Linked DNA regions of Homo sapiens. The protein of the gene in region 1 interacts with the protein of each later gene in a pairwise test. Each region holds a gene or a part of one and is shown on either strand. Other genes may lie near its edges.

The links.
Region 2: the proteins of TUBGCP4 (region 1) and LZTR1 interact in binary tests that used the Homo sapiens proteins (3 or more experiments, as listed by UniProt).
Region 3: the proteins of TUBGCP4 (region 1) and RNF146 interact in binary tests that used the Homo sapiens proteins (3 or more experiments, as listed by UniProt).
Region 4: the proteins of TUBGCP4 (region 1) and PRPH interact in binary tests that used the Homo sapiens proteins (3 or more experiments, as listed by UniProt).

Annotation. Positions count from the first base shown.
Region 1 is NC_000015.10:43,381,084-43,388,111, reverse strand, and holds part of TUBGCP4 (gamma-tubulin complex component 4), read right to left. Parts: intron 4,810-7,028; coding exon 4,608-4,809; intron 2,322-4,607; coding exon 2,156-2,321; intron 1,907-2,155; coding exon 1,782-1,906; intron 1-1,781. UniProt on the Homo sapiens protein: Component of the gamma-tubulin ring complex (gTuRC) which mediates microtubule nucleation.
Region 2 is NC_000022.11:20,977,918-20,985,319, forward strand, and holds the start of LZTR1 (leucine-zipper-like transcriptional regulator 1), read left to right. Parts: upstream 1-4,379; 5' UTR 4,380-4,454; coding exon 4,455-4,654; intron 4,655-5,109; coding exon 5,110-5,172; intron 5,173-7,402. Other genes in the region: AIFM3 (apoptosis-inducing factor 3), read left to right, coding at 1-88, 1,354-1,452, 1,710-1,785, 2,103-2,207, 2,830-2,850, 3,075-3,114. UniProt on the Homo sapiens protein: Substrate-specific adapter of a BCR (BTB-CUL3-RBX1) E3 ubiquitin-protein ligase complex that mediates ubiquitination of Ras (K-Ras/KRAS, N-Ras/NRAS and H-Ras/HRAS).
Region 3 is NC_000006.12:127,283,836-127,289,062, forward strand, and holds the end of RNF146 (E3 ubiquitin-protein ligase RNF146), read left to right. Parts: exon of another isoform or gene 1-1,513; intron 1,514-2,214; exon of another isoform or gene 2,215-2,342; intron 2,343-2,780; coding exon 2,781-3,858; 3' UTR 3,859-4,727; downstream 4,728-5,227. UniProt on the Homo sapiens protein: E3 ubiquitin-protein ligase that specifically binds poly-ADP-ribosylated (PARsylated) proteins and mediates their ubiquitination and subsequent degradation. May regulate many important biological processes, such as cell survival and DNA damage response.
Region 4 is NC_000012.12:49,290,982-49,298,162, forward strand, and holds the start of PRPH (peripherin), read left to right. Parts: upstream 1-4,165; 5' UTR 4,166-4,219; coding exon 4,220-4,764; exon of another isoform or gene 4,765-5,196; coding exon 5,197-5,257; exon of another isoform or gene 5,258-5,450; coding exon 5,451-5,546; exon of another isoform or gene 5,547-5,603; intron 5,604-5,734; exon of another isoform or gene 5,735-5,907; coding exon 5,908-6,075; exon of another isoform or gene 6,076-6,166; coding exon 6,167-6,292; exon of another isoform or gene 6,293-6,375; coding exon 6,376-6,596; exon of another isoform or gene 6,597-6,695; coding exon 6,696-6,745; intron 6,746-6,976; coding exon 6,977-7,056; intron 7,057-7,181. UniProt on the Homo sapiens protein: Class-III neuronal intermediate filament protein.

The DNA.
Region 1 (7,028 bases):
TGGGAGGCCAAGGCAGGAGGATCACTTGAGCCCAAACGTTCAAGACCAGCCTGGCCAACATGGTGAAACCCCCATCTCTATTAAAATACAAAAAAGTTTGCCAGGCATGCTGGTGCAGGCCTGCAGTCCCAGCTACTCAGGAGGCTGAGGCACGTGAATTGCTTCAACCCGGGAGGCGGAGTTTGTAGTGAGCCGCGACTGCTCCACTGCACTTCAGCCTGGGTGACAAAGCAAGACCCTGTCTCAAAAATAAAATAAAATAAAGGTACCTACCCTCTCCTGACCTATGAATCAGAAGCTCTGGAAGTAAGGACTTGGTGCAAGTGCAGGTTTTAAAATTTCCTCATGCGGGCCAGGCGCAGTGGCTCACATCTATAATCCCAGGACTTTGGGAGGCTGAGGTGGGAGGATCACTTGAGCTCACGAGTTTGAGACCAGCCTGGCCAACATGGTGAAACCCCATCTCTACTAAAAATACAAAAATTAGCTGGGCATGGTGATGTGTGCCTGTAATCCCAGCTACTTGGGAGGCTGAGGCGGGAGAATCGCTTGAACCCAGGAGGCAGAGGTTGCAGTGAGCCGAGATCACACCATTGCACTCCAACCTGGGTGACACAGCAAGACTCCATAAAAAGATAAAAAATAAAAAATAAAATTTTCTCATGCGATTCTATGCTTAGCCAATGTTGAAAGCCAGGAATATAGTTAACAACACAGCTGACTAAATGTCTCATTTCGTGTTATCACATATCCATGAGACAAATGTTAATATAAGCCACAGAACATATATGCTCCTTTGAAAAATTACTGGTCACAATTTAAGTCGGTGGCACCAGCACAATTCAAAATGAAGAAGACTGTGCACCAGGAGTCGGAGGCCTGGCACTGACCTCACTATGGCTACTCACTGTGCCACACCAGGCAAGCCAGACAAGTCAGCTTGCTGAGTGTTTGCTTCATTTATAAGAATGAGAAAATAATATTTGTTCTGCTTTCCTCATAAGATGATTGTGTATAGAAATGAAAGTATAAGTTATGAGCCATACTAAACTACAAGACACAAAATTTAGTCAGAATTAGTTGATTCCTAGGAGTTATTGCAAACGATAGAGACAGATCCAAAATGCTGATTTTCAGAATTTAAACCAAGATCCCCCCTTTATTCAACTAACTAACCAACTAAAAACCACCTGTCTTTTAGTTAGATAGGAAAATGGGAAGGCAGTTCTGCCTCTGTTAATGAAAACAGAGGCTTTTCTTTTCTACTTTCTGCCTTCAACTCTCTGCAACATTTCTTTCCAAGCTCGGTTCTTAACTCATCAAGACATCAAGATAAAAACAAAAGTCAAGTAACTCAGTGTCTTTTTTTTTTTTTTTTTTTTTTTTGGAGACAGAGTCTTGCTCTGTTGCCCAGGTTGGAGTGCAATGGTGTGATCTCGGCTGACTGCAACCTCCGCCTCCCGGGTTCAAGCGATTCTCCTGCCTCAGCCTCGTAAGTAGCTGGGACTACAGGTGCATGCCACCACACCCGACTAATTTTTGTATTTTCAGTAGAGACGGGGTTTCACCATGTTGGCCGGGCTGGTCTTGAACTCCTGACCTCAGATGATCCACTTGCCTTGGCCTCCCAAAGTGTTGAGACTGCATGCGTGAGCCACTGCGCCCGACCAAGTAACTCAATTTCTAGGAAACTAGTCCAATTTTGCCTAAGAAAAAAAAAAAAAAAAAAAAAAATATATATATATATATATATATATATATATATACGATGAAACACAAACCTCAGCCACAGTGCTGCGAATGCGATCCACCACCTGTTCAAAGTCCACCAAGCTGAAGAGTGGCTGCTGCTTGAGACGGTGCAGCTCTGCAGCAAAAGTGTCTTCCTGGTTTTTCAAAATGGATCCTGCAAAATAGGAAGACACCGTCAAAGGAGGACGGAGAATACCCAGGACAGTTAGGGTTTTCTGGGGAGGGCTAATCTCAGTGGGGCAGCAACTTCACCTGCTTCTCAGACAAACGTCATGATTCTGCTACAATCTCAGGATAGGAATATTATCGACCACTCGCTCTGACCAGGCATGCTGTGGGGCCACATAGTATTAAGGAAGAAGAGATTTTGAGGGTGTGGTACATTGGACAAGGAGATTTCTACCTTTTCTAGTCAGGTTCACATTTTGATTCTCAAACATCTGGACAGATTCTCCAACAAATAGGATTTTTTCAGCAACCCTCACTGGAATGTAGGATGGCAAAATCTCCACTCGTAGGGAAAACTGCTTCAGAGATGGTGCCAGCATGTTCTCTTCCTCAATCAGGCGCTAGTCAAGGAAAGAGTACACATCGAGATGCAGTGTGAAGCAAGAAAAGGAAAACAAGAAAATACCTAGTAACTCTCCCAACCCATGATTTAAAATAAAGACGCAGGGACTTCAAATCTGGTGTTGCACAGTTCTCAAACCACCCATTTTGGAGAGATGTATTTCATCTTCAGGCAGCAGAGTGGCATGGTGGAAATAAGAGTGGCTTAAATACTGGGATTTGGGCCCTCACTCTGCCTTTACTACTGAGTAAAAACTTGCACAGTCGACCAGCTTCCTTACTTGTACGATGAAAGAGGTGGTCTTTTTTGTTTTCCAGGTCTTCTCTCTATGTCTTCTCTGCTGGTGCTCCTCAGGGCACTGTCCCAGACTGTCTTTTCCTCTCAGCCTACACTTCCTATACAATCACATCGTCTTCTGTGACTGATCAGTGTAACAGATAGTTTTAATTTTTAGGTCACAGACCTCTCTGCAATCATAAAAGCTATGGATCTTCCAGACAAATGTACAGACATATAACATTTCATGAACCTCCTGAAGCCACCCAAGGGCCCCAGATTAAAAACCTCCAAGCCCCATGCTGATGATTCCATATGTAGATTTAAAGTAAGCTGGAGTGCTCTCATGAGCCCCAGGCTCAGCCCACTGAACATTTCCCACAAGTTCCTCAAACTCAACATGCCCCCCATTAGACCCATCTTCTTCCCCGCATACCAGCAGTATACACCCCTATCGTCACTACTTGCCCAGCTGCTGAAGGCAGAAACCTGGGTATCATCAATGATTCTTCCCTCTTGACTCATTTCCAAGCACTCACTAAGCCTACTGATTCCACCCTCTAAACATCTCTCACACCTCTTTGCTCTTTTTTCATATTCAATGTTAGTATCTTTGGTTTAGGGGACTATTATTTTCACCTAAGTCTCCCCAACACTCTCTTAACTGATCGACCTGCCTCTAATCTTGATTTTTAAAAAATGATTCCCCACACAGCATCCAGAGTGATTTATCATGAAGTCTGACTGTGGTACCCACTTGCTTAAAATTCAATAGCCCCCAACTCTTTTCAGGTTCAAGTACAAACTCATTTCCACTGTTTACATGCACCTTTGTGATCTTGCCTCTGCTTAACTCAAGTTTCATCAAGTACCAACTTACACAGTTTCAAGTACCACCTCTCCCTCACACCATCTCTTGTAACATTTTACTTCAGCCTTTATTTGATCATTTCAATTGAATTACTACTGTTTCCCCAAATGAACCATGTCCTTAATGGCCCCTGTACCTTTACACATATCATTCCTTCTGCCTGGATGTCTCTTGATGGCTCCTCCCAAACTCTTTGCAATTTAGACATACCTTCCACTGAAAAGCCTTCCCTAGTCACTCCAAGACCCTATCCCATGACCATGTTCCAAGAATACCCATATTTAGTCTTTTCAGAGCCCTTAGCACACTGTAATGTAACTGTTTACTTTTCTATATCTCTTCCCCTAAACTATGAGCTCCTTAGGGACAGACACTACTACTTTTTATTTGTAGCACCTAGAACAATGCCTAGCACATAACAGGCATTCAATGAAATATTGCCACAGGATAAATGAATGAATGGATGGATGGATGAATGGATGAATATGGACAATGTAGAACTTTGAGGAGTCTAATCAAAACACCAAACTGGCCAGGCACGGTGGCTCATGCCTGTAATCCCAACACTTACAGGCCGAGGCGGGTGGATCACCTGAGGTCAGGCGTTCGAGACCAGCCTGGCCAACATGACAAAACCCTGTCTCTACTAAAAATATGAAAATAAAAAATATGAAAATTAGCTAGGCATGGTGGCACATGCCTGGTTCCAGGTACTTGGGAGGCTAAGGCAGGAGAATTGCTTGAACCTGGGAGGCAGTGGCTGCAGTGAGCCAAGATTGCGCCATCGCACTCCAGCCTGGGCGATGGGTGAGAATCTGTCTTTAAAAAAAAAAACAAAACTCCAAACTGTATTTAAAATCTAAAATGTAGCTAGCTGCTCCATTAGAGTAGCTACATAAGTAAGACTTATAATCTCTCAAATGCATATATTGGGAAAGAGGAAACAAAAAGAATATCACAAACATATTTTCTATTTTATAGTCTCACACTAGTTAAGATAAAGCCGAATGTTTACATCGAAAGGATTGATGGAAGGTGCTCAGCTATGAGCTAAGAAGGGATCACCAGAAGATCATTTGTGTGCATGCTTTTCTGACTCCTGGCAGGAGAGTGCTAGGCTACTTTTTGGGCTCTCACCAAGTCCTGCAGTTCTCTCAGTTGTTTTCCTGTCAGTCCCCCAATGCCCAGATCCTCCTCGTCCTCTTCTGGCTGGGCACTGACATTACCAGAAGATGGCCCCTGTTTGATAAAGAATTCTTCATGCTGGTCCAAGAGGAGTCCATGGAGCATCCAGGCTGAGAGCTGTTTATACATGACCCCATGACAAACGGCCAGGATTCTGGGCAGAGTAGAAAGTAAGAGGCTCAGAAGTCATGCTTTAAACTGTTACAGGATAAACAGAGGCCTGAGAATTTGATGAGTCATAACAGAAATAACCAATTAAGTTAAAAATAATTGTGCTATTTTAATTTAAATGTGGGTGAACTAACTCACTGAATTTCCATATTTGCAGCCTACACAATGAAATCTAAAATGTTCAGTATATGTGCTGATATTATTTTAGGGAAGACATTTTCTTCCCTTCTTTTATGTAATTTTCAAAACTGATGGGTCCTAAATATGTACAACTGTTTTATAGCAATAAAAAATAAAAATAATAAAAAATTTTAAAAATCGACTTAATGGAGTCTCTTTTTGGCTAACACAGTATTAAATTTGTTTTATTTTTGTTGGAATCACTTAGGGAGAGAATATTCAATACGTGAGTGCCAGGTATACATGAAAAACCATTATCTAGCAAAATTCAGAAACTAAAACAAAATGCAGAATGGTTGTTGGGGAATAGGATATTCAGATGGTCTCAAAGGATCACCCACCAGATAGCATATTAATTAAAAAGGGGAAAATGTACCTCTATAATGGAGCAGGACGTGATGAAAACACCTAAGCCAAGTGATCCAACTTCATAACATCCGTGATGGGATAAAGTTACTTTCTGTACCTTCTAATATGATGTAATGGGAAATAATATCACCTACATAGTATTCTTGCCAAAAAATGTTTAATCTGAATCTAATCATAGGGAAACAATAAATCCAGATTGTGAAACATTATACAGGACAGCTGGTCAGGACTCTTAAAATGTCAGCGTCATCCAAAACACCAAGAACAACAAAAGGCAAGGGGGACGGTTCTAAATTAAAGGAGACTAAAAAGACATGAGAACAAAATGTAGTATGTGAACACTGATCGGATCCTGGATTGCAAAAAAAGAACAGCTATGAAGGAATTCTGAGGGACAACTAGAAAAATTTGGATATAGTATTACTGAATTAATGTTAACTTTCTTGGGTGTAATATGGAATTGATGTTCTATAAGAGAATCCCTTTTTCTTTTATTTTTCTTTTTTTCTTTTTTCTTTTTTTTTTGAGACAGGGTCTCACTCTGTTGCCCAGGCTGGAGTGCTGTAGCACGATCATGGCTCACTGCAGTTTCGACCTCCTGGACTCAAGCCACCCTCCCACCTCAGCCTCCTAAGTAGCTGGGCCCACAGGCGCACACAGCATGCCTACTTTTTTTGTATTTGTAGAGACGGGGTCTCACTATGTTGCCTGGGCTGGTCTCCTAGGCTCAAGCTATCCACCCACCTTGGCCTCTCAAAGTGCTAGGAATACAGGTGTGTGCCACCATGCCCAGCCAAGAATGCCTTTTTTCTAAAGTGATACAAGCTGAAGTATTTAAGTGTTAGGGTATCTGTGACTACTTTCAAATGACTCTGCAAAAAAATTTGTGCATTTCACATATACGTATAGAAGGAGAAAAAGAGAAATCAAACGTGGCAAATGTTAACAAATGGTGAAACTAAAGGATACACTAGCGTTTGGTTGGTTTTTTTTGTTTTTTGTTTTGAGACAGGGTCTCATTCTGTCATCCAGGCTGGATTACAGTGGCGAGATCTCAGCTCACTGCAGCATCAACCTCCTGGGCTAAAGCAATCCTTCTGCCTCAGCTTCCCGTAGCTGGGACTACAGGCAGGCACCACACCTGGCTAATTTTTTTATTTTTGGTACAGACAGGGTCTCGCTATGTTGCCCAGGCTGGTCTCGAACTCCTGGGCTCAAGCGATCCCTCTGCCTCAGCCTTCCAAAGTGCTGGGATTACAAGCGTGAGCCACCGAGCCCAGCCTACAAGTGTTTTATTATACGTTTCTTTCAACTTTTTTGTAGGTTTAAAATTTTTCAAAATAAAAGGTTGGGAGAAAAAGAAATTACAAGAACTTGACTGTGTTATTTAACTGAATGGAATCTCTCTTTAAAAAGATCAAATGTGAAGCTATTTACATTTATGCATTTCTGAGTATGTGGTCTGTAAAGTTTGGTCCCTGCAAACACAGAACAAACATGTATATATAGTATCATCTACATTAGATTTTATATTCTATACACAAAAGTATAATAGAGAATTAAGTCCCTAAGGAATGTTCTGGAGGATTTACTCATGCAGTGGTTAGAGTGGAGATTAAGAGTTGTGAGTGGCCGGGTGCGGTGGCTCACACC
Region 2 (7,402 bases), on another chromosome or scaffold:
GCAGCTGGCGATGCTGTCACCTTCCCCCTTGCCTGGAGGAACAACCGCAAAGTGAACATTCCACATTGGCAGATGGCTCATGCTCAGGGTATGGCCAGTCCCGAGGCACATGGAGGGGTGGGAGGGAGTCTCAGGGTCTCAGTGTCCCCATGCCCATGCCTCAGTTGCTGACCTTGGGTCCTGGACACTGTTAGGCATCAAAGCTCTGATGTGGATTCTCTGGCCAGCCTCATCTCGGCGATCCAGCCAACACAGAGAGCGACACCCCACTGAGCCAGCCATAGCTCCTCAATCTCAGTTTTCCTTCTGGTAGTCTCTCCCTTTTTTGTCTTCAAGGACATATATTCTGCAGAATTCCTGATCAACCTGTGCATTACCCTGGGGAGGGAGGGAGGGATTTAGTGGATCACCTTCCCATTTATGCCTCTGTTTCCCTTGGGCCACTCAAGTATCTCTGTGAACTCAGTTCAGCCTCATGCAGGTCCCCGAGGTGCCATCTGAGCCCAGAGACGTGGGCTCAGTGGAGGCACTGTGCTTTCTGAGGAATAGCTTTCCCCTCCTGATGTTTGCTGGCCACCAAGTCCCCCAAGCCTCATCCACTGTGCACATCTGGTCTGGGCCCCTAAGCTGCAGGTGCCATCACATTAGTTGCCTCACTGCCTCAGAGAGAGGACTGCCAGACTCCCAGCCTGGGACAAAGGACTTCTCTGCACCCATCTCCCCTTTCCTCTGCCTTTACACCTGAGGGTCTGCTGCTTGAAACCCCACTTCTGGTACCAATTTCTATTCAAGTCCAAAGTCGAAAGTTGTTGCTAGGTTGTAAGTAACCAAGGCAACTTATCAGCCAAGTATAATTAGGATTTAACTGAGAGAGTTTAGGGGACTTTGAAGTACATCCAACTACAGGGGTCTACTGGGGCCTCATAGGAACTGGGGAGCCATCCACACTGGTCTCTTTGGGGCCTTGTGTGTGGCTGTCATCTGTGCTTCCCTGTGTACTTGTGCCCCATTTTCCTCCCTCTTCAGACCTGATACGTCTGATTAGGTGTCTGTGTGCACAGCTGAAATGGTGGCGTACTCCCCCAACCCCAAGAAGCAGACCTTCCAGAGTCAGGGCACTTTATTCAGATTCTTTAAGGAAGCAATCAAGTGGCTAGCTTTGAGGCAGGTGTTCCCCTGCACCAGTCAGCTGCAGGTGCAAGTGAGCAGTGGGCTGAACAATGATGTCTCTTGACCTCTGGGGAGACCAGGAGGAGTAGCCACACGTGTCAGGGGTCCCCAGGGCATCAGGAGCAGGTAGTGTGGGAGTGGTAAGAGCGAGAGTTAGGGTTCTCACGGCCCTGGGTCCCGCAGGGCGCGTGGCAGCCCAGAACATGTTGGCGCAGGAGGCGGAGATGAGCACTGTGCCCTACCTCTGGACCGCCATGTTTGGCAAGAGCCTGCGCTACGCGGGTAACCCCGGGGCCTCGGATGGGGGCGGGGCCGAGGGCGTTTAGGGGCGGGGCTTGGGTGTGGGGCGGGGCTGGGAGCCTAGGGGCAGGGCTATGACCGCACTAGGAAGAGGCCGGTAAGAACTCGCTGGCGGCAAGGCTACGAACTACCTAAAAGGACGTATGGAGCAGGGCCTGGGCGGGGTTAGGAGGGGATCCTGTGACGTCTCGTTCCCTCCCCCGGCTCACGTGGGTGCCACCCACCTGCCCGGCCCACAGGCTACGGAGAAGGCTTCGACGACGTCATCATCCAGGGGGATCTGGAGGAGCTGAAGTTTGTGGCTTTTTACACTAAGTGAGAGCACCGGGGTGCAGCTTGGCGCGAAGCAGCGGGAGCTCAGTCGGGAAGGGGGATTCATCCCAGGCAAAATCCCAGAACAAGAGCCCAGCCCTGAGCCCCGCTGAGGAGTGCTGGAGCTTCCTTAGGAAAGCCCGAAGCTTGTGCACGGTCAAGCCGCGATGTGCAAAGCAGGGAGGGCTGGGTGCTCAGGCCATTCTTGTTGCCCTGGGGTAGGTCCTTCCCTGGGCCCCAGATGGACAGCAGTGCATCAGGGTTTTCAAAAAGGGGCTGCTGCCTCGCAGTCCTCAGGCTTGGCCATCCTCTCCTTGCAGAGGCGACGAGGTGATCGCCGTGGCCAGCATGAACTACGATCCCATTGTGTCCAAGGTCGCTGAGGTGCTGGCCTCAGGCCGTGCCATCCGGAAGCGGGAGGTGGAGTGAGTGTGGGTGTGGGAAGCCTGGGGGTGGGAGTAGTTCCCTGGAGTACTGGCTAAGGTGCCTATGACAGCCAGCCGCCCCCACAACCCTCCAGGGCCTTTCCCCTCTTGGTTTGCATCGCCTGAGGCTTACAGGACTACAGGGAGGTGTGGGGCAAGGATCATGGTTTGAGAGCAGGCTGGTTATGTGTTCATGGTGGATGGAAGGGATAGAGATGTGTGTCACCAGGCAGGGCCAGTGCTGTGGGAAGGGGTCAGGGCCCAATGCATGGGCAATCACCAGGCGTGGGACACCTAACTGGACATAGTTGTGCTGAGCCTGGCAGAAGCTAGGTGGGAAATGCAGCTACTGATGCCCTGGGTATGCCCTCCACATAGATGGTGGGGGTGGTTCTAGGTTTCACTCAACACCAGCCAGTTCCCTTATCCTGGTGTGGTGTCAATGAGATTCACCCTCTGGGAGAGAGCTCCCAGGGACTGGGGACAGCCTGGAGGCCACTGGGAGGCTATGAGACAGGGGCAGGCTTCAGGCTGGAAACAATGGAGGACCAGAAGGGGACATGATAAATGACATGCTCTCTCCTTGGCCTTCTCTCCGTTTCTCTCTCTTGCCTTCGTGAAGGCTGTTTGTGCTGCACAGCAAGTACGTGTGTCCTTCATGTTGACCGTTCTGAGCCTTTCCCATGTCAGCCCAGACCCTCCACCCAATGGTCTTATCTCCCTCTGTCCAAGTACACCTCCCTGCTGGGCACTAGGGTCTGGCACAGAACAGACCCCCTGCTGTCCTCAAGGGCCAGCTGTTCAGGGTGCCCAGAGTGGAGAGCCTGTTTTCTTCTGTCTTGACCCCTCCTCCCCTCACTCCTGCAGGACTGGCGACATGTCCTGGCTTACGGGGAAAGGATCCTGAGCTCACATGCAGTAGACTTGGGCAGGCAAAGGGGGCACCAAGGGCACAGGCCAAGCCTTGGGGGCAGGTGCCAATCTCCAGTCCCAGGATCCCCCAGGGCAGAACCTGAGCCCTCCCAGTGCTTGCCTTCAGCCACCTGGCTCCCCTCCTGGGAGGCCTCTGCTGGATCCAGAAGATGCTCAACCCTCAAGGCCTCTGCTGCCACTGACAGCTGGCACTGGAGGCAGGACAAGCCCTGCCTCTTCTCCCTCTATTGGGACTGGTCCCCTGAAGAACCCTGCAACACGTTAAACATTACCGTAAAATTAAAACGCACAAATTTGCAGATCTGTATGACTCCCAGTGTAATTGGGCCAATAGGCACAGGACCAGACCACAGGGAAACAGGCACAATCACAGAATGCCAGGTGCCACACCAAGGAAATTTGGCCTGTGAACGCCCAGAGGAGGTAGCAACTAATTCTGCGCCCCAAGCCCTCCCACATCCCTCTCCCCCTCTGCGATCAGCGAACGCTTTTTGCTTTTGGCTCTGAGTTTTGAAGGAAGGGTATTCCAGGTAGAAGGGACAACATGCCCAAAGGTCTTGAGATAGTAAATGCTCCTTCAGAGGTGGCTCATGCTTGACACTTTGGGGCATTTGCCCACTTAGGGCTGTGGGAGCTGTGTCCTGAGACAGACCCCATGCTTTTCATAGCCGGAGCATTCTCAATCCCCATGTCGGAGGTGAAGGAGCTGAGGCCCTGCTAAGTAGGAATGAGAATCCAGAGGCTCCTCGCCGGGCTGCCTCTCAGTCAGTAAGAAAGCCAAGGGGAGAGGGGAGTTGCTGGGGGTCAGGGCTGAGGGCGCTAGCAGGAAAGGGAGCGTTGAGCCGCCTGCAGAGGCCGCTGCGAGCCCGGAACCCTCCATGGGGGATCCCGGCAGCGGCAGACGATCCAGGCCGGAGCCACGCGCAGACCCAGGGCATGCCGGGAACTGCGAGCCGGCCGCGGGTCTTCGGGCTGCGTGGGCCTGGGAGGCGCCGGGAAGAGCAGTCGCGACGGGGCTAGGGACGACACACTGCATTCACTGGAAGGGACAACGCAGCGCCAGTACATAGCCTGAAACGCTCCCCAGAAGGTCCCACGCTCGCCGCGCGGTCGACAACCGCATCCTGCGCTCGCCCGCGGTGTCTCGGCAAGCGGTAGGCTTGTCGGGAAGAGCTGGAGGGCGCAAGTGCGGCGCTGGCCGGACGTGCCGCACCGTCAGCGCAGGGCTCGCCGGGAAATGTGGTTTCTCCAGCCGGCCCGGGGCGGTGGCCGCAAGTTGGGCTTACAGCGCGGCCGATCCGGCGTGGACCCGGGATGGCTGGACCGGGCAGCACGGGGGGGCAGATCGGGGCTGCGGCCCTGGCAGGCGGCGCGCGGTCCAAGGTAGCCCCGAGCGTGGACTTCGACCATAGCTGCTCGGACAGTGTCGAGTACCTGACGCTCAACTTCGGGCCCTTCGAAACAGTGCATCGCTGGCGGCGCCTCCCGCCCTGCGACGAGTTCGTGGGTGCCCGGTACGGTGGGCTTCATGGGGTCCTGAGGACAGGAAGGGCGATCTGCGAGGGTCCCAGGGCGGGTCCAGGGGCGAAGCCGGGGGGTGGTGTCCTGGGGTAGGATCTGGTAATGAGGTGGATGGTGCTGTACAGGACGCTGTTCAGGGCAGGGGAGAGGGTTCCGAGGGAGTCCCAGAGCCCGATGTCCCGGGACAGGGTACTGGAACTAAGTTGTGTTTGTGGATATTGGGCTGGGGTCCCAGGTGCTCTGAGGTGGGGTGAGGAGTCCAGAGAGTCCTGGAGCCGTGTCAGGGGTCCTCACTTGCAGGATGATTGGTGTTATCTTAGAAGATGATGGATCTTAGCAGTTGAGAGGTGATACCTAACTTCCGTGGCAGCTCTCCTGCTTAGTCCCATTCCTTGGGTGCCCCCCAGGAGGGTCCTGTCCTTACCGCCCTCCACTCCTTTCTTTCCAGGCGCAGCAAGCACACAGTGGTGGCCTATAAAGATGCCATTTATGTATTTGGTGGAGACAATGGGTGAGTGAGTCTCAGCATCAGTGTTTGGACCAGGTAGGGAGAAGTACTGTGGTCAGGGACTGGGCCTGTCCAGCTCCATTACTGTCCTTTCAGATGCTAGCTGGTGCCTCTAAGCTTCAGTTTCCCCATCTGTGAGATTCCTTGCACTCACCTCCCTGGTCGTGGTGAGGATTAAATGAGATCCTGCACTCATGGTCCTCAGCACAGCTTCCAGTGGGTGGCACATGCTCAGTATGTGGAAATGTCCCTCTTCTGAGTAGATGCAGCCTTGAAAGAAACACAACCACCCTTGCGGCCAGCCCTGCCAGGCACTTTTCTTTCCCTGTGCCTCATCGGTATGGAGGACACAGTTTTATTTATTTCATGCATTTTTCACTTTTTGTGGGGGTTTTCCCAAATTGCTCCAAACATCAGGCAACAACGTGATGTTTTGTTGGTGGGCACACCTCCTTTCACATAAACTGTCTCCACTTAAGTTGTGGCTGGTTTCCTTATGCAGAGGGTGGAGTATTTGCACATGACTAGTTGTGTCCATGTGTCCTAGCCCTGCCTCTCAGCCCCAGGAACTAGCATGAAGCCCTGGAAGGTCTGGCCTCTTACTGGCTCTGCAGCCTTGGTCCTGTAGGCCTCCTTGGGGGGCGGGCTTGAGGATGGTGGGGTAGTCTGGACCCCACCAGGATCTGCATACTGGGCAGAAGAGCCTCCTTGGGCATGGTCCCCTGGCTTCAAGCCTGTCTTCCTCCCACTCTCTTTCCCCAGGAGTAGCCGGTGGGGCCCATTTACAAAAGCAAGTCAGAGTATGCTCCTCCTTGGCTCATCCTCCTGTAATGCCTCCCTGCCTCTCTGAGTAAAAGCCCAAGTCCTCATGAGAGTCTGCTGCTCCTCTGCCCTCAGTCCCTCACTGCACTGGGGCGGCACGGGCTGCCTTGCTATGTTTGGATTGTACCAAGTGCCCCCCTGCTCAGGCCCTTGCACTGCCCATTCTCTCCTCTCACCTTCCTGCCCCTCCTCTGATGTTTCTTGTGACTGAGGCCTTACTTGGCCATCTGGACCAACTGGAGACCATTGCTTCCCCTCCATACCTCTTACCATCTTCATTTGTTCCTGAGGCACACAGATGTTGGTTATTATCCATCTCTTCAGTCAAGGCAGGGCCTGTGCTCCTTTTACCATTGTATCCTGGCATCTAGAAAACTCCATAAATGTTTGTCAAATGAAGGAATGAAATGAAGAAGAGATGCCTACCCACAAGCATTTACTGCAGCCTTAATGAGAACCCTCCAAACCAGAAAGGGCTTTAGTGTCCAGTACAAGGCAGCAAGTGGGAAATGGGGGACCTTCATCCTCAAGAGTGTCCTTAGCAGGTAGTTTGTGTGACAACTGTGTAGCAATAAGCAGAAACATTTTTGCTGCAGTATGACAAAGAAATAGGATACAAATTTGTCTCACACTAGTCTTAACTTTATAAAGACTGCCTGAGTACAAAGAAAGATGGCCTCCTGCGGCACGTGGGGCAAGTAAGGAGGGGGGGGGGGCGGTATCACAATCACCACCAGCTTCTAGGCTCCTGGCTTCCTGGCTGCATGGCCTCAGACACAGCCTTTGAGCCACTAGGCTTTGTTGCCATCTGTGAAATGGAGGTGAGAGAGCACCCACTGGTGCAGACTAAGTGAGACCGTTCAGGGGGCACCCAGCACAGGCTGGGCATGACGGGGCACTGGGCTCCTGTCAGTTTGCCCTTCTTCCCAAGGGCTGGGTAGTGATATGCCAGCTGGTAGTGTTAGGTGGTGCAATGGCCAGTGAATTTGTTTTCTATTTGATTGTATGGCTTTTGCAACAAAGAAATGGCAGGGGCCAGGTGCAGTGGCTCACACCTGTAATCCCAGCACTTTGGGAGGCTGAGGTGGGAAGATCACTTGAGGCCAGGCATTCAAGACGAGCCTGGGCAGGAAAGCAAGACTTCGTTTCTATTTTTTTTTTTTTTTTTTTGAGATGGAGTCTTGCTCTGTCACCCAGGCTGGTGTTCAGTGGCGCCATCTTGGCTCACTGCAACCTCTGCCTCCCGGGTTCAAGCGATTCTGCCGCAGCCTCCCGAGTAGCTGGGATTACAGGCGCCTGCCACCATGCCAGGCTAATTTTTTTGTATTTTTAGTAGAGATGGGGTTTCACCATGTTGGCCAGGCTGGTCTCAATCTCCTGACCTCAAGTGATCCGCCCGCCTAGGCTTCCC
Region 3 (5,227 bases), on another chromosome or scaffold:
ATTGTTTGCAGATTAACTTTGTCCAACTTCACTTCATTCTGATGATGGAACCAAAATACCTGCACAAACAGGATTGTTTTGCCTTTCCAATTATGTTATTATAATTCATGCCTTCTCCTGGGATGATTGTAATTGCTTTCTTAGTTTTGAAATTATGTGTTTTGGTTTATTCATAAATGCAAGAGTAAGAGTCATGCAAAATATTAATCATATTAAGTAGGGTGGAGGATAATGTTTTTAGGTTGGAAACTTTTTTTTCTGTAGATAAACGAGCTGTATGTGATGGAAAACTGACTTCTTGGGCCCATTTTACTTAAAGCAAATACAATAGGTTTGGAATTATGTATTTAAAAGCATGGCATTGGTCCACGTGACATGTTGGGTGTCTTGTTTTCATTTTACCAGACTCTGTTTTTATTTATGTTTTCAGTTTATGATCCTGTCCTTTGTTCATAAGGTACTTAGATGGTTTAAGATGTAGACTTCTTATATGAAGATGTTGCTGTTGTTTTTCCAAAGTAATGGTGGTCATCAGCCCATTTTTCTATTTAGTCTCATGAATAGAATCATGAGTAGAATCTTTCTTAAATTATTACTTGTAAATGGATCACTTTCTTGTTTTCTTTTTCTTAATTGGAGCTTTAAATAAATATGGAACTTGGAACAAAAAGATTTTCAGGAATTTTATGGAAACTAACTTTTTTGACCTAAATCGAAAGGGATGAAAGTTTCTGAAAACCTAACAAAATGTGTGCACAGCCAATTCTTTTAGGGGAGGAAATAGGCAGGGAATGTGTAATTGGCTATTTTAAAAACATATGCCTTCTTTTGTAACTTATTGTTGTTTCAAGTTACAAGATCTTTGAAGGCAAGTGTTTATCTCAAAATATTTGAAAGCTTTTATAGTGCTTAACATACTAAGACGTCCTATTAGGGTTTACTTAGAACAAGCTTATCCAACTTGTGGGCCACATGTGGCCCAGGATGGCTTTGAAAGCGGCCTAACACAAATTCATAAGCTTTCTTAAAACATTATGTGATTTTTTTTTTTAGCTTATCAGCTATCATTAGTGTTAATGCATTTTATGTGTGGCCCAAGACAATTCTTTTTCTTCCAGTGTGGCCCAGGGAAACCAAAAGATTAGACACCCCTGACTTAGAACTTTCCATAGGTTAGGAGAAAGTTGTACTTTCTTGATGTCTATAACCTAGAATTTCTGGTAAAGGAATTGATTGGAAATGTTATTAAAAGTTGAAAATAATTTGGAAATTAAACATTTTAGTGATCAGTTCTTCCATTGAGACTGTGTTGGTTCCTTTACTAGATATGTGCCATCTTTTTAAAAACTTACTGTGTTGCTTCCTTTACTAGAAAATTGCCATCTTTTTGAGCCTTGTCTATTGAGGAACCAAGAACACAGAAAAGGCAGTAAAAAGAAAAAAAAGGATTGTTTGAAGATTGAATGTGCTGTGATGATAGCCTAGGATTATTGTTTTTCAATTTTTGATGAGCGTAAGCATTCTTGTTGACTATATCTTTTGTAACTACTGACCCATTTAGAATGGCAGAATTAGCTGGCAGAGAGATTGTCATTCATTTTAAGCTTTCAATCTCTGACATCTTCATCTTTATTTCTCAGTCTTTTTTACTTATCAGTGGTTTACTCCATTATTTTCTCCCCTTTTAAAATGTCTTTTTTTTTTTTTTTTTACCATGGGGAAAAAAATTAGATGTTTCCTTGGCAGGGCACAATAACACAATAAGGCTTTCATGACTTAACTTTTGATTACCTTTACACCTTCATCTCCTGCTCTTCCATTGCTTGTATGACTATTTGACTCAGTGTCTTGCATGTGCTTCTGCCTGGAATCTGCTCCACTGCCCAGCCCCTCTGAATGAACACTAAACTTTCTAACCTATGTCCATCCTCTCATCTCTCTCTTACTGTTATTTTAGTAAGTATGTTAACACATTTTGATTACGCAGGAATCAGGCCATATTGTAATTATCTGCATGTATGTTTCCTTATTTAACAGAGTAGTTGTGTGTCTTATTTATCTTTAGACCCATCAGTACTTAGTATTGTATCTGGAACATGGCAGGTGTTTAGTAAATGTTTATCTGAATCAATAAGGCAGAAATTATAAATTTTATGTCAGTGTTTAAGCTAGATACATCCAATTTGACAAATCTTTTTTCTTCTTCCTCTTCAGGGGATCTTCAATATTCATGTTATTTTCTCCTTTGGTCTTATATGATTGTTACCTTTATGAAGCTTTAGTGATTACAAAGCACTTTTTTTGTCCATTTTTACCTGAGCTTTGTAAACTCTGATTTGCAGGTAAGGAAATTTAGACTAATGGTTTAACTGAGTGCCTAAGAGCACATAATTAATAAAGGACTCTAAAACTCAGATTTTTAGATTTCTTGTCTAGCATTCATTTCACTGTATAATAGCTGCCATGATTCAAGGTATCCTTTTCCCCTCACTGGATGCAGCTTTTCATTATATAGTTCTTCAGTGTGTTTCTCCAGGGCTGATCTGTTAAGTGCACTGATGGAATTTTTATACATTCCCAAGGTATGTACAAGTAGATGCTTACAAAAAATTTTCATCGGTTGGAGAGTTTTTCCTCTACTTTCATCTTCATATCCCCATTGTCTAGTATGTGGCTTGCATATAATGCACATCATAGGTGGTTAGTGTTTTCATAATTGTTAAATTAAGATATTGCAAGAATTAAAACATGACTTTAATATTATATGTATTTTTTCTTAGGATGGCTGGCTGTGGTGAAATTGATCATTCAATAAACATGCTTCCTACAAACAGGAAAGCGAACGAGTCCTGTTCTAATACTGCACCTTCTTTAACCGTCCCTGAATGTGCCATTTGTCTGCAAACATGTGTTCATCCAGTCAGTCTGCCCTGTAAGCACGTTTTCTGCTATCTATGTGTAAAAGGAGCTTCATGGCTTGGAAAGCGGTGTGCTCTTTGTCGACAAGAAATTCCCGAGGATTTCCTTGACAAGCCAACCTTGTTGTCACCAGAAGAACTCAAGGCAGCAAGTAGAGGAAATGGTGAATATGCATGGTATTATGAAGGAAGAAATGGGTGGTGGCAGTACGATGAGCGCACTAGTAGAGAGCTGGAAGATGCTTTTTCCAAAGGTAAAAAGAACACTGAAATGTTAATTGCTGGCTTTCTGTATGTCGCTGATCTTGAAAACATGGTTCAATATAGGAGAAATGAACATGGACGTCGCAGGAAGATTAAGCGAGATATAATAGATATACCAAAGAAGGGAGTAGCTGGACTTAGGCTAGACTGTGATGCTAATACCGTAAACCTAGCAAGAGAGAGCTCTGCTGACGGAGCGGACAGTGTATCAGCACAGAGTGGAGCTTCTGTTCAGCCCCTAGTGTCTTCTGTAAGGCCCCTAACATCAGTAGATGGTCAGTTAACAAGCCCTGCAACACCATCCCCTGATGCAAGCACTTCTCTGGAAGACTCTTTTGCTCATTTACAACTCAGTGGAGACAACACAGCTGAAAGGAGTCATAGGGGAGAAGGAGAAGAAGATCATGAATCACCATCTTCAGGCAGGGTACCAGCACCAGACACCTCCATTGAAGAAACTGAATCAGATGCCAGTAGTGATAGTGAGGATGTATCTGCAGTTGTTGCACAGCACTCCTTGACCCAACAGAGACTTTTGGTTTCTAATGCAAACCAGACAGTACCCGATCGATCAGATCGATCGGGAACTGATCGATCAGTAGCAGGGGGTGGAACAGTGAGTGTCAGTGTCAGATCTAGAAGGCCTGATGGACAGTGCACAGTAACTGAAGTTTAAATAAAAATGTCTTCAGCTCCATGCTCAAGGTTGAAAGGGTTACCTGTAAATTTCTGCCCACATAACATTATACTCATCCCTAGTAGTGCATTTTGGGAGTTGGGGTGGGAAGGGGTATGGGAAGGATAGACTCATAATTAAAATGTCTAACATGTCTCTGTTGAGAAATTTATTTAATGTAAGGAACTTGGGTGTTAATAGTTGAGAGCTGTTTAGTAATAACCCAGTTTTCTTGAGGTCTGTTTACTTTATACTTTTTAAAAACTTCTGTAGTTCTTTTGGCCAGTGTGTTTGTATTATCTGTGCATTAATGGTCCTCATCTGACTCCTGCATTGTGTCTTATTTTTCTGCATGGATTGGCATAAGACCATTACTAAAATTTGGCACCTGTGAGATGTTTGATATTATGAACAGGAAACATAATTTAATGTATGAATAGATGTGAATTTGGGATTTCAAAATAGATGAATAACAACTATTTTATAGTAAAGTTATTGAAATGGAAATGAAAACAGCCAGTAACTTATGTTTCAGAATGTTTGTAACACACTTCATGGTGTTCCCATAGGCTTTGCTGTCTAGTCTTATAGTTTGAGGTTTTTTTGGTCTGCATTTTTCTTTTTGATTACAAAATTTATAATTTAATAAATACTAGAGTTTATCAAAAACAGTTTGTCTCTTGTTTGAGGGTGGAAAGGGTGTGGAAACATTTTGACATTTGTGACCAAAGGTCACTTAAAAAGTGGTGGTTTTAATTGGTTGTTTTCAGCTTAATCACCTGCTCAGAAAAGTTTGATTTTTTTCTTAGAGATTATTTAAACAGAATCTATAGGCAGTGTGTATATAATAAACATGTATGGAAATAAAACTAAAGCCTGTGAGACTTAAAATTCCTCAAATAGCATATACCGTTAATATTTTATATTTTCCTTACCATATTCATTAGTAGTCTAACACTCTGGATTAAATGGCAGACTTAACGGTGTTAGCAGACATGAATTCACTTTACACAAAATGTTGTAGACCACAAAATCCACTTTTATTTGGTAGTTTTTACATCTATGGCCAAATAGTATTGGGTTGACACAGTAATCTAGAGTTTACCTCTGAAAAAAAGTAATGTGAGTCTGTCTAACCATATTTTCCTAACTCAACAGTAGGATCATGATGGTAAGGCAAATGCAAGTTATTTTTACCATGATTCTCAAATGTGAATTGAATGTTACAGTAGCAAATACTTTTGACCTCTTGTGATGAGTCAGAACTAGAACTTAATTCTTTGACTTTCACATTTTTTAAAAAGTGTATTGCTGGGATCATAAACATTTTATGTTGTGCATTTTTATTACATTTACTTTTGAAAGATAG
Region 4 (7,181 bases), on another chromosome or scaffold:
CGGCGTATGCTACCACGCCCGGCTAATTTGTTTGTTTGTTTTTTGAGATGGAGTCTCGCTCTGTCACCCAGGCTGGAGTGCAGTGGCGCGATCTCCGCTCACTGCAAGCTCCACCTCCTGGGTTCACACCATTCTCCTGCCTCAGCCTCTCCAGTAGCTGGGACTACAGGTGCCCGCCACCACGCCCGGCTAATTTTTTGTATTTTTAGTAGAGACAGGGTTTCACCATGTTAGCCAGGATGGTCTTGATCTCCTGACCTTGTGATCCGCCCGCCTCAGCCTCCCAAAGTGCTGGGATTACAGGCGTAAACCACTGTGCTCCACTGGCATGTCTTTGTTCTATGACTGTTCTTTGGCCAGCCATGGATCTCTTTACTCTCCCAATCTCCCACTCTCTCTTGCCTACATGCCCTCCTAATCCAGCTTTGAGCCCGTGGCCTGACATTTAATAGCACTCTTGGCCAGGCGTGGTGGCTCACGCCTGTAATCCCAGCTCTTTGGGAGGCCGAGGCAGGCGGACCATTTGAGATCAGGAGTTCGAGACCAGCTTGACCTACATAATGAAACCCCGTCTCTACTAAAGTACAAAAATTAGCCAGGCATGGTGGCAGGTACCTGTAATCCCAGCTACTCGGGAGGCTGAGGCAGGAGAATCGCTTGATCCCAGGAGGTGGAGGTTGCAGTGAGCTGAGATCATGCCACTGCACTCCAGCCTGGGCAACAGAGCAAGACTCTCTCTCAAAAAAAATTTAATTTAATTTAATTTAAAAATAGCACTCTTGCCAGTAACCTAAACTTCGTTACTCACCTTCCCTGCAAACCCCTGAACACATGCAATAGTTGTTTCTCTTCCAGCCTTCATCAGAGCAGCCAAGGGAGGCAGGAGGAGGAGGAGCGATGAGAATACTGGCAAATACTTCTACAGCATGTACTAGGTGCCAAGCACAAGTGCTTTACAGAGGGTAACTCGTTTAATCCTCCCAACACCATGAGGTAAGTACTGTTATTATCATTCCCATTTGTGGATAAAGAAAATGGGGTGGCCAGGCGCGGTGGCTTATGCCTGTAATCCCAGCACTTTGGGAGGCCGAGACAGGTGGATCACGGTCAGGAGATCGAGACCATCCTAGCTAACATGGTGAAGCACCGTCTCTACCAAAAATATGAAAAAATTAGCCGGGCGTGGTAGCAGGCGCCAGTCATCCCAGCTACTCAGGAGGCTGAGGCAGGAGAATGGCGTGAACCCGGGAGGCGGAGCTTGCAGTGAGCTGAGATCGTGCCACTGCACTCCAGCCTGGGCGACAGAGCGAGACTATGTCTCAAAAAAAAAAAAAGGAAGAAAAAAGAAAGAAAGAGAGAAAGAAAGAAAGAAAGAAAATGGGGTGAACAGAGGTTAAGTCACTCAGAAAACCCAAAGCACACAGCTAATTAAGGTGAGCAGCCATGAATGAACCTGCACCATCTGCCCAGAGTCCCGGTCCACCAGGGGAGGATGAGGCCAGGGAGGACTTGGCTTCTTCCGCCTTGGGTCCAAGCACTACTTTCAGCAACCAGGGGCACAGTCCAAAAGAAGCCCAGACTCTCACTGCTCTTGGGGCTGACATTATCACTCTGGAGGTTAATAATAATAGCAATAATAAAACCAGCTTCCATTTTCAGGCTTTAAGATGTGTGTCCTAAGCACTTCACATGTATTTATTTATTCCTTTAGTCCTCCCAACAACACTATGAGGTAGAAGCTACAGTTAGTTATCTCCCTTTTCTTGAGGGACATGAAGGGACGTAGTGACGAGCCTAAATTCTACAACAGAGTGGTGGATCAGATGGGAAGTGTGGCAGCTGGATGCCAGAGCCCGGCTCTTAACCCAGACTCTTTGCCTACCTTTGCTCCGCCTGGAGTTGCTGGCCTGCTCCTTCTGCTTTAGGGGAGGAGCCTCTTCTGCCTGGCAGTTCCCCACCCAGGCCTGATCCACAGCTCCAGAGCCCTGCTGTGGCAGCCCTCTGTCCCTTCTCCTCCGAGGCATGTAGGTGGCCAGCGGAGCCCTTAAGCAGGGTGAGGACGGGAACTCCATCTGGAACTCCCCAGGCCCAGCTGCAGCCCCAGCAGCCTCTACTCTCAGAGGCTTGGGTCCCCCACTAGTGCCCTGTAGACAGGGCCTGAGCTGGTCCTCCCCAGGCCTTGCCCGCCTCTCCTGATGCAGAGCTGGCTCCCTGCTCCTGGAGGGTGGGGCCAAATCCGGGATAGATGGGGCTCCAGGCCAACAGCAGCTGGGGCTCAGTGCCCAGGACTGCGGCAGGAAGCACCAAGGCTTCCCTAGCCCCTCCTCACACCCACCAAGCCTCCCGGCCCTATCCCGGGTGGGACCCTACCCCTCCCAATTCCCAGGAGTTAGGGGAGGCCAAGCTGTCATTTATTCGTCCTGTCCCATCTCTCCCTTCCTCCCGCTTCCCACTCCCCTGGCAACCAAACCAGACCCATCAAGGAGAAGGAACTGGCAGCTGTGCAGGGAGAGACTAATGGCCCGGAAGGAAGGAGGGGCCTGGAAAGGAGACGAAGGCGGTAGGGACGTGAGCAGGGCGTTGGCCCTGGCCCATCTCACAGGACGCACAAAGGGGGGAGGGGGCTGCTGCCCTGCAATACTGAGGAGCTGGCCAGCCAGGGAGCCGCCCTCCTTACCCCCAGCCAGATATCCAGGCAGGAACCTGAAACCTGCTTCCCCAGATGCACTCTCTTGTCCTCAGGTCCCATCTGAGGCAGACCTGTCTCACAGGACAGCGCTGGAGTCCCCAGCAGCAGCAGCAGCCCCAGCCCTATGGTTCCTGGCAAACCCAGCAGACCTCAGCAACCCGGCTCCTGCAGACCATCCGAGCTGCCTCTGTCCACTCCTGGGCAGGTTGTGCTTGCATTCTGGAAGCTGTTTGACATACAAAGGCCAGATATCAGCCTTCTCGCTAACTCTGGAGTAGGGGAGGGTGTGGTGGGATGTGTGATTGTGTGTGTATGTGTGTGTATGTAGTGTGTGTGCGCATAGATATACAAAGCTGTGTGTATGCATCTGTTTGCGTGCGCAGGTTTGTGGACCTGTTCTGGGGCCTTCTCTCTTTCAGACTGCTGGGGATGGGCACTTTCTCTTTCCCCATCTCTTCCCCATCCAGCCCCACCCATCCCTGGTACCTGCAACTCATCAATACTGGAAACCAGCTCCTGCCAGTCCATCCATCTCTCAGCCTTGGCAGCCGCTGTTGCCCCTCAGCCCCCTCCCCTTCCTACCTCAGGAATCACTCTGGTTCCTGTAAAGCCCATGACTGAGCAGCAATTGGTGTGGGGTTGGGGGGAGGGAGAATCCAGTAAACCAAGACAGAATACAAAAGGCCCACTTAGCCCAGCCCGTGGCATGGGGCAGACCCTCCCGAGTGGGATCCAGAGCTGGGTCCAGCCACCCTCAGCCCCCTATGATGTACCCACCTCATTGGGGCTTGTTGCGGGGTAGGTCTAGGTTTGGGGGCTGTGTCTTTAAGGCTGAAACATCAGCAGACAACCTCTGCTGGGCCGTCTTCAGGGGAGGGGGAGGGGGGCTGGTCAGCCCATTAGCAGCAGAGCTGGCGCCAGGCACCAGCCCTTCACAGGGCCCTGGGGATTAGGGAGAGTAGCTCTTCCCCAGCCCGATCTGCCTCTGCGCCCCTGTCTCCTATTCCTCTCTGGGTGTGGTGAAGGAGGGGTAGCTGACAGCAGGTGAAAATAGAGCCTGGCCTTCAGGGGGCAAGTCAAGGCACTAGCTATGGGGCCTAAGCCAGGTCAACTCTCCCTCCAGCTGGCCTCCTCCCTACTCCTGTGCCAGAAGCCTGCCCTTTAACTTCAGGTCCTTCTACCTCGCAATTTTCAGGGACTCTAGTTCAAGTCAGGCCTTCCTACCCTAGGTTCTAGCTTTGGGTGCTTGTTGGGAGGAAGTGACCCCCACCCCAGCGGCAACAGGGGGCAATCAAGTGGGTAGAGGCCTGCAACCAGGGAAGGGAGGGGAAGGCGCTCCTGCTGTTCCGCAGGGGTGGGGCATCCCCCTCCCCATACAACCCCCCTCCAGCGGGCCATCAGGCCAGTGGGAGGAGCTGCCCGTGCCCCCCCTGAGACCGCAGGGCTATAAAGCCGCCTCGCAGCGGTCTGCGGCTCCTTCCCAGCCCCCGGCCTAGCTCTGCGAACGGTGACTGCCCATCCTTGGCCGCAATGAGCCACCACCCGTCGGGCCTCCGGGCCGGCTTCAGCTCCACCTCATACCGCCGTACCTTCGGTCCACCGCCCTCACTATCCCCCGGGGCCTTCTCCTACTCGTCCAGCTCCCGCTTCTCCAGCAGCCGCCTGCTGGGCTCCGCGTCCCCGAGCTCCTCGGTGCGCCTGGGCAGCTTCCGTAGCCCCCGAGCGGGAGCGGGCGCCCTCCTGCGCCTGCCCTCGGAGCGCCTCGACTTCTCCATGGCCGAGGCCCTCAACCAGGAGTTCCTGGCCACGCGCAGCAACGAGAAGCAGGAGCTGCAGGAGCTCAACGACCGCTTCGCCAACTTCATCGAGAAGGTACGCTTTCTGGAGCAGCAGAACGCGGCCCTGCGCGGGGAGCTGAGCCAAGCCCGGGGCCAGGAGCCGGCGCGCGCCGACCAGCTGTGCCAGCAGGAGCTGCGCGAGCTGCGGCGAGAGCTGGAGCTGTTGGGCCGCGAGCGTGACCGGGTGCAGGTGGAGCGCGACGGGCTGGCGGAGGACCTGGCGGCGCTCAAGCAGAGGTCAGGGGGCAGGGCTGGGCCGCTGCCGTCGAGGCGAGGTCGAAGCGGCCGTCGAGGCGGCTGCTCTTGCCTCCCCTCGCTTCCCCTCTCCATCAGCAGCCCAAGGGTGTGGCTCCCCTTACCAACCCAGGTGTGTGCGGGCAGCATCCCTGCCCACGGGCTCCAAGTGCCCCCCGCTACCCCTTTGCTCTGAGTGTTTGGGGAGGTGGGAGAAGTGGGTATCTGTGCCTCCCCTGAGTAATGAGGAAACCCCCTTTTCAGCTCCCAGTCCGTTAGAGACAATGCGGGGCAATTCCATTAGACAGCCTCAGCCCTCCATTTAGAGTCCTGGGCAGCAGAACAGCCTCTAACCGGATCCTGGGGGGCGTGCGGTCTGGGGTGCGAGCTGGGCGGCGACCCCGCAGTTCAGCCTCTGCACGCTCTTCCCGTCAGGTTGGAGGAGGAGACGCGCAAGCGGGAGGACGCGGAGCACAACCTCGTGCTCTTCCGCAAGGTGAGTCCGAGCCCCTCTCCGAGTTCAGCCTCCCCACCGCTACCCCCGATCTCAGTATCCAGAGGTGGCATCGGTGGGCGCGGGGAGAAGGGGGTAACCCAGATGCCTCCTGAGGCAGACAGGGAAGGCCTGGTCCTTCCTTGGTCTGCGCAGCCCCTAACTTATCTTGAACCTCCACTGCCACCCCTCGAAGGACGTGGACGATGCCACTCTGTCCCGCCTGGAACTAGAGCGCAAGATTGAGTCTCTGATGGATGAGATTGAGTTCCTCAAGAAGCTGCACGAGGAGGTAAGTGGGCCCGGTATCAGGGGCGGTTTCTGAGGTTGTGGGGTGGTCTCGCTGGAGCTGGCGGGTGGAGCGGAGGCATCGCCCTGGGGATCAGGACGATGCTGGGTAGACGCAGCCCCTCCACCCTAGTCTACAGGTGGTTAGACTCCCACCCTTGCGCCACCTGGCGGCGGGCAGCGGGGCTGTACCTCCGAAACCTGGCCTCTGGTCTCGCGCCCGCGGGGGCGCAGGGCTGTACGCCCTGCCCTCCCTGGCGCCCACTTCTGTTCGTTCAAGCGTTTCTTCTCTTTTCTGTGCACGAACTGCGTGGCCCGCGTGGAATTTGCGCCGCTGTCCATCCTCTGCCTGCTCCCGGCCGTAGGAGCTGCGAGACCTGCAGGTGAGTGTGGAGAGCCAGCAGGTGCAGCAGGTGGAGGTGGAAGCCACGGTGAAGCCCGAGCTGACGGCAGCGCTGAGGGACATCCGCGCGCAGTACGAGAGCATCGCCGCGAAGAACCTGCAGGAGGCGGAGGAGTGGTACAAGTCCAAGGTGCAAGAGCCGGGAGGGCCTGCGAGGCGGGACGCTGGGGTGGTGTCGCGCGTCCCAGCCGACTAAAGCCTGGGTTACCCCCACTTCTCAGTACGCGGACCTGTCCGACGCTGCCAACCGGAACCACGAGGCCCTGCGCCAGGCCAAGCAGGAGATGAACGAGTCCCGACGCCAGATCCAGAGTCTAACGTGCGAGGTGGACGGGCTGCGCGGCACGGTGAGTACGAAGCTGCGCGCTCGGGCCCGGGGAGCGGACGATGAAATGTTCTGCAACTGGCCCCTTCCACTCTCCTACCCCAGAACGAGGCGCTGCTCAGGCAGTTGAGAGAGCTGGAGGAGCAGTTCGCCCTGGAGGCGGGGGGCTACCAGGCGGGCGCTGCGCGGCTCGAGGAGGAGCTGCGACAGCTAAAAGAGGAGATGGCGCGGCACCTGAGGGAGTACCAGGAGCTCCTCAACGTCAAGATGGCCCTGGACATCGAGATCGCCACCTACCGCAAGCTGCTGGAGGGCGAGGAGAGCCGGTGAGGGTGGAGCTGCTGGGGCGGGGCAGGGCGGGGTCGGGACTGGGCCGGGCAGGGCGGGGCCTGGGCAGGGGCGCTGACAACTTGCTTCGCCTCTAGGATCTCCGTGCCCGTCCATTCTTTTGCCTCCTTAAATATAAAGACGACTGGTGAGTCTGGCTTACAGCCTGTACCTCTCCTTGTCCACTTCTGCCCTCCTCGGGCTCTTGCTCTGGCTCACCTCAGGGATCTCTTCTCCCCACGGAACTTCTGGGTCCTGGCCTGTACCCACCCCTACTCCTCAAACCCGCCCCTCCCCTGCCCTCAGGGATAGCAGTGGGAGCCTAAGAGGAGAGATTCCCACGCCTTCCCCCTTGAACCCTTTATCCTGCTTTCTTCAGTGCCTGAGGTGGAGCCTCCCCAGGACAGCCACAGCCGGAAGACGGTTCTGATCAAGACCATTGAGACCCGGAATGGGGAGGTGAGGCAGGTCCCCTAATGCCAGGACCCCACCATTTCCCATATTATTTCTGAGCCCCAGCCTGGCTGTCGCTAATCTTACTTAGGGTGGGTAATTCTTGGGGAGAGACAGAGAAGGAGACAGAG